Linked DNA regions of Homo sapiens: region 2 is linked to region 1. A link means that fine-mapping ties the variant in region 1 to the expression of a gene that starts in the linked region. Tissue or cell type: whole blood. Region 1 holds a variant in brackets; the other region holds the start of a gene. All regions are shown on one strand. Distances are from middle to middle.

Evidence for each region.
Region 2: DNAJB6 starts here. The variant in region 1 is fine-mapped to the expression of DNAJB6 in whole blood (TOPMed, PIP 0.98).

The regions. Positions count from the first base shown.
Region 1 is chr7:157,416,265-157,419,166 of GRCh38, forward strand. DNAJB6 (DnaJ heat shock protein family (Hsp40) member B6) reads left to right here. Exons shown (of 10, transcript NM_058246.4): 10 at 1-1,175. Among named protein-coding and RNA genes, the nearest start is that of DNAJB6, 81 kb to the left of the region's middle. The variant A/G (reference allele first, on the strand shown) is at 1,263.
Region 2 is chr7:157,335,541-157,338,442 of GRCh38, forward strand. DNAJB6 (DnaJ heat shock protein family (Hsp40) member B6) reads left to right here and starts at 1,464. Exons shown (of 10, transcript NM_058246.4): 1 at 1,464-1,604. RefSeq lists enhancers at 912-1,414, 1,415-1,918, 2,647-2,696 and silencers at 1,177-1,336, 1,527-1,736, 1,797-1,986.

The sequences.
Region 1 (2,902 bases):
CGGGGCTGACGGCACGGGTGGCGGGGACAGACGTTTGGGACTTGGCCGCGACTCTCTGCTTCTCTCCAGCTCTCAATCTGCTGCATTTTCCTCTAGTGCTTCCGGATCCTCTTCATTCTTTTCGGCTACTCAACCACTCCGCATGCTGCTGGAATATTTCTGGCTTTAGAAGTACAGGAGGGCGCAGATGGCTAACTGAGTAACATTCATGAAATGAGGCTTTCTGTGGCGGCGTAGTGTTTGGAATTAGAAGGTAATTCAGTAGAGTGTAACTTAGAGAATATTGCAAGTGACACATTGAATCCTGCCCGTCAGGGCACCTTTTCCTCAGAGCAATCCGGCCACACGAATAGAAGGCTGTCGTGAATCACATCAGATGTAAAATCATTCCTTCTGTTTACTCTTTTAATTTTCATCCTTTGCAGGTAGTGCAAATTCAACTTCAAATATGGTGTAGGTTTTGCTAGATTCCATATTTTTTTCTTGGATTTTTGCTAATTATTTTTAGCAAAAAATTTTTGCTCAGTGGCACTCTCCCTAGTGTCCATGGGTTAGGGCCATGCTGGGGAAAACGGGCCGGTATTTACACACGCGCAAAACACCCAGAGACGGCACAAGGAGGTTGAACTCATGTTTCAGTTCGCGAACATTGACTCCTTACGAAAGTCACTTCATTCTAACTAGATGCGCCCACTTCCGGTCATTATTTCGTTTGCATGATGTATTGCTTCTTCACGTTTTGTTTTTATTGAGCACGGAGTAGAATTCCAGGGCTGCCTTGACTTCTTCCCTGCATGCTCCCTCCCAGTGACTTTCCTTCCCTTTCACATGAGGATCTGCCGTTCATGTTGCTTTCTCCTTTGTCCTCTTGGACTTGAGGGCATTGTGAAAAGCTTTGCTGTGATTTAAAAATGCCAGCAATTTTAATCTAGCAGTGTTGAAGCTGGGAATTTTTTGGCGCAATCCATGTAGCAGTGACCCAGGCTTGGGAGCCAGAAACAAGTGTGACCTGGGATTTTATTTAACACAACTGTTGCCAAAGAGTTGGCTTTGTTTATTTGGTTTTGGCGGGGAGAGGAGTGGTATTTGATGCTTTCTGTGGACAATGTAACCCTAAACACATCATGTATTTTAAATGCCACCTACATAAATAAAACATAAGCATATTGAATACAGCTCGCCTGCTGTCCTTTGTAAGCGCCAGTAAGTTGCACCGTTAAGACTGACTAGAAATAAAAGCAATTCTTCAACATTACGATTAC[A/G]AAGGATGAAAGTGGTGTTTTGCAGGCAGAAGCCTTGCTTCCGAAATGCGTCACTGTAAGGCGAAAACATGACTTTAAAGCTAACACCCCCGGCTGGGCAAAGTGGCTCACGCCTGTAATCCCAGCACTGTGGGAGGCCAAGGTGGGCAGATCACCTGAGATCAGGAGTTCAAGACTAGCCTGGCCAACATGGTGAAACCCCATCTCTACTAAAAATACAAAAAATTAGCCGGGTGTGGTGGCACACGCCTACAATCCCAGCTATTCGGGAGGCTGAGGCACGAGAATTTCTTGAACGAGGGAGGCGGAGCTTGCAGTGAGCCAAGATCGCACCACTGCACTCTAGCCGGGAGACAGAACGAGACTCCGTCTCAAAAAAAAAAGGCCGGGCACGGTGGCTCACGCCTGTAATCCCAGCACTTTGGGAGGCCGAGGCGGGTGGATCACGAGGTCAGGAGATCCAGACCATCCTGGCTAACACGGTGAAACCCCGTCTCTACTAAAAAATACAAAAAATTAGCCGGGCGTGGTGGCGGGTGCCTGTAGTCCCAGCTCCTTGGGAGGCTGAGGCAGGAGAATGGCGTGAACCCGGGAGGCAGAGCTTTCAATGAGTCCAGATTGCGTCACGGCACTCTAGAGAGAGCGAGACTCTATCTCAAAACAACAACAACAACAAAAAAGTAACACCCCAACGCACAGATGAGGTGGAAACTCCCGCAGCCTTCACAGGAGGCATTGAGGGTCCCGAGAGGAAAACCTCGTCGACTCACCCTGGCTCTGCTGGCGACCAAGACTGGGCCAGACACGCGCTCAGTGCTGACATCCTGGCGTCCGGCCTTCCTGGTGACAGGGGAAGGCGGTGCAGTAAGTCGCCTTGCGGGCCGGGGTCGGGGGTGTTTTTAAAACAAGATTAGTCCTTCTCAACTGCTCAGATCCCAGAATCTGCTGCTGAGATTGTGGCGAGGGAGGCAGGTGGTTCGACAGGTTTAGAGGTGACTGTTGTGCCCTCAACCCTGCCCACTTGACCCTCAGGCCGTCCCAGGAGCGTGGCCGGGCTGCCTCAGCAGGGGCACAGCTAGGGAGCGTGGACAGAGCCGCGAGCGCCTTCCAGACAAGCCAGGCCACACACAAGACAGGCTCTTGGCAAAGGGGCCAGAGCCCCGTCTTCACACGGCCTGGCTACCGAGTCAGCTCATGTCACAGGTGGGTCCTCCCTTCGCTGAGAGGGAGAGACCCCGACCCCAGGAGGAGAAGGGAGCTGGTGTCCATGGGGCCCGGCAGGTGCATGGCCAGCAGGTAGGCATCTGCTTCTCAGGTGAGGAGGGGTATTGGGGTCTACCCGACCCCTGCGCCCAGCGCCCCATCCCCCTAGGGCGGGTCCAGGAGCTCTGTGCTGCAGATAGAGCCCGCGGCTGCTTATGCCAGCGTCTGCTGAGGGGGTGGATGCTGCAGATAGAGCCCGCGGCTGCTTATGCCAGCGTCTGCTGAGGGGGTGGAGAGGGAGCCCGGCCCCTGGGTGTGCTCGGCAGCTGCTGAGATGATGGCAAGGGGGAGCGCGGCACCTGTCGTCGTCACCTTTGTGACGTCCCAAGCACTGGGGGGCCCTGCGGGGGGTGGGGAAGGCAGTGAGGTGCTGGTGG
Region 2 (2,902 bases), 81 kb before region 1:
AACGATCACGAATTCATAAGCGTTGTTAGTTCAGAAGGTGGCTGAGCAGGCCCCCGGAATTCAGTGTCAGCATGCCACAGGATCTGAAGTTCAGGAAAGGTGTAACAAAAAGGGATTTTTCTTTTTTCTTGAGACAGAGTTTCGCTCTTGTTGCCCAGGCTGGAGTGCAATGGTGTGATCTCCGCTCACTGCAACCTCCTCCTCCTGGGTTCAAGCGATTATTCTGCCTCAGCCTCTGCAGTAGATGGGATTACAGGCATGCACCACCACACCTGGCTAATTTTTTTTGCATTTTTAGTAGAGACGGGGTTTCTCCATGTGTCAGGCTGGTCTCGAACTCCCAACCTCAGGTGATCCGCCCGCCTTGGCCTCCCAAAGTGTTGGGATTACAGGCGTGAGCCACCGCACCCAGTTGAGATTTTTATTTCTTAAAGGAAAGGATAAGGTGGGCCAGGACTAAGACAACACAGTAGCAAACATCTGGCTGAATGCTGGAGAGGAAGACAGTGGGAGATCCAGGCCAGGCTCCATGGACGAACTGCTTGTTGGCTCCTTAGGCTTTGGGTCTGCGGGACCCTTTCGCTACTGGGAATGGGAGCCTGTCTGACTGCACTGGGTCTGAGACTCCCTGCTCCTGCTGGTCACCATCTACACGCATGTGGTGTTGGTCTCCAGGGTTAGAACCAGAACCCCTGAGGACGCGGGAAAGGCTAGGAAGCCTGGGGATGACCTAAAGTCCAGCTATCAAAATGCGCCGCGTTTTCAGAAAAACTACTGCCACGATTTAACCTAAAAAGCTTCATCTGTATTTTCTGCCACAGTTTGCTTCCGTTTCCTTCAGTCACTATTCCCTGGCGAAGTCTCCACGCGCTCCCGTTCGCCGGGGAACTTAGGGTATCCGGGCTTCCCTAAATTGACAAGCGGGGGCCGGCGCCTTCGCCCGCCTTCGCTGGCCGCCGCTTGGTTTGTTCTTCTTCTCCTTCGGGGACTTCTCCGCCCGCGCCCGCGCCCGCGCCCCAGCTTTCGTCCCGCTGTGCGGAGATGCCACCCAGCTCCACCGCAGGACCGCGGAGCGAGAGGCGGCAGACGCGCTCCGGGGGCCGCCGGTCAAGAGGAAGATGAAGGGCGCGACGACTTCGCGGTTTCCAGAATGGGCTCCTTCTGGCCCAACAATAAGTGCCATTTGGAATCTTCTCGGCCTTCTCTGTGCCTTCCGCGCGTCTGGGCTCCCCGGTACCGTAGACCCGGCCCCGAGCTCCGCCCCCTCGCCCTGGGCTTCCCCGCCCCCTCGCCCCCAGTCTCCTGGGCTCTTCGGGGCGGCGGAAGAGCCGAGAACCTTCGCGAAGGTGGGGCGGGCGCCCCCGAGGTTGGGCCCGCGGTATGGGCAGTGGAAACTGCGCATGCGCGGCGTCAGGGTCGGGCGGAAGTTGACGCCGCCGTGCCGCCGCCGCGTGACGCATTTCCTGTTTGTTGTTGGAGAAAGGAGAGAAAGGAAAGCGCGAGGAGCCGCCGCCACCACCAGCGCAGCAGTCCTGGAGCTGTGAGGAGATTCGGGCCGTCACCCTGCCTCCCCTGCGTCCCGCCACCGGCCGCTTCTGTCCTCGGTGAGGGTCTGTTCCGAGGGTCGGGGGAGGTCGCCTAGGGCCCCGCGCGCGCCCGGCAGACGGCGGACCTCACCCGGCGCCTGGCAACAGCGCGGGGGGTGACCGGGGTCGCCGGCCGGGGAAAGGACTGGACGGGGCGGGGGCCGTGGCCGGGGTTGCGGGGCGAAGGGTGGGCGGGGTCCTCTGGGTCAGGTCTGGGGCCGGGGCCGGGGCTGGGGTCTGGGGCCGCCCGGCCGCGTCCTCCCCGCCCGGCGTCCTTGCCGGAACGCGGCCCAGCCTCCGCGGCGGCGGTTGGGGGTGGGGCCCGGCCTGGGAGCGGCCGGCTGGGGCTCGGCTGGGGCTCGGCGGGGCCGGCAGCGTGGGAGGCGTGGAGCGCCTTCTTTTTCTAAGGCTCCCGCACTCGCGTCTGAAACCAGAAACGGGAGTGGCTTGCGGAGCAGGAATGCCGCAGCCGTGCCGCCAAGTTCGGAGGGAGAAGAAGCAGGTGGGGGACCGCAAAGCCCTGTTTCTAGAACTCCGGACGGATTGTTCAGAAGTTTGTGGAAGAGCAGGCTGCCTTTCTCACTCAGAATGTTTGTCTGCTTTGCTTTGCGTTAAAGAATCTGCACCGTAGTTGATGCAACTGAAGTTTATATAAGAAGTTTACATTAACTCTTACCTAAGGAAGGTCAGTGACACACGCAGTGTAAACTGCAAATCATATATTGGCTCGAGAAAGGTTTTGGCACTAGCGAATTTTTTAAAGGATGGGTTTGCTAGTCAGACGTAAACTTCTGTGCTAACTTCTCACGTAAACGGGGCAGGAAACAGCGCAAGTAGAACGATCGTGCCACCACCGAAGGGGTGCCGCCTGCGAGCTCGGAGGCTTCAGCCTGTTTGGGAAGAGTAGGCTGAGCGGCGCTCTTTGTAGTTTTCAACGTTTTTATTGAGTTGCGAATTTTAGTAAGGATTTGTCGCTACAATTTAAGCCAAATTATTGATTTAGTAGAAAAGTTAGAGTGAAGACCGAAGAAAGGAAACAGACGTTAACCATTAAAGCTTGATTGCTGCTGCTTCGTGTTTAACCGCACTTTTCCAAATAGTGTTGCGTATCAGAACGATTCATGATTTCTGAAAGGAATTATATGCAGCCGCCTTACTCCTCCGCCAGTCCACCCGTCCCGCGTTCTCTCTGGGTTTACTCCAGACTTCCTTTTTTTTTTTTTCCTGAGACGGAGTCTGTTCTGTTGCCCAGGCCAGAGTGCAGTGGCGCGATCTCCACTCACTGCAACTTCCAGCTCCCAGGTTCAAGCGAGTCT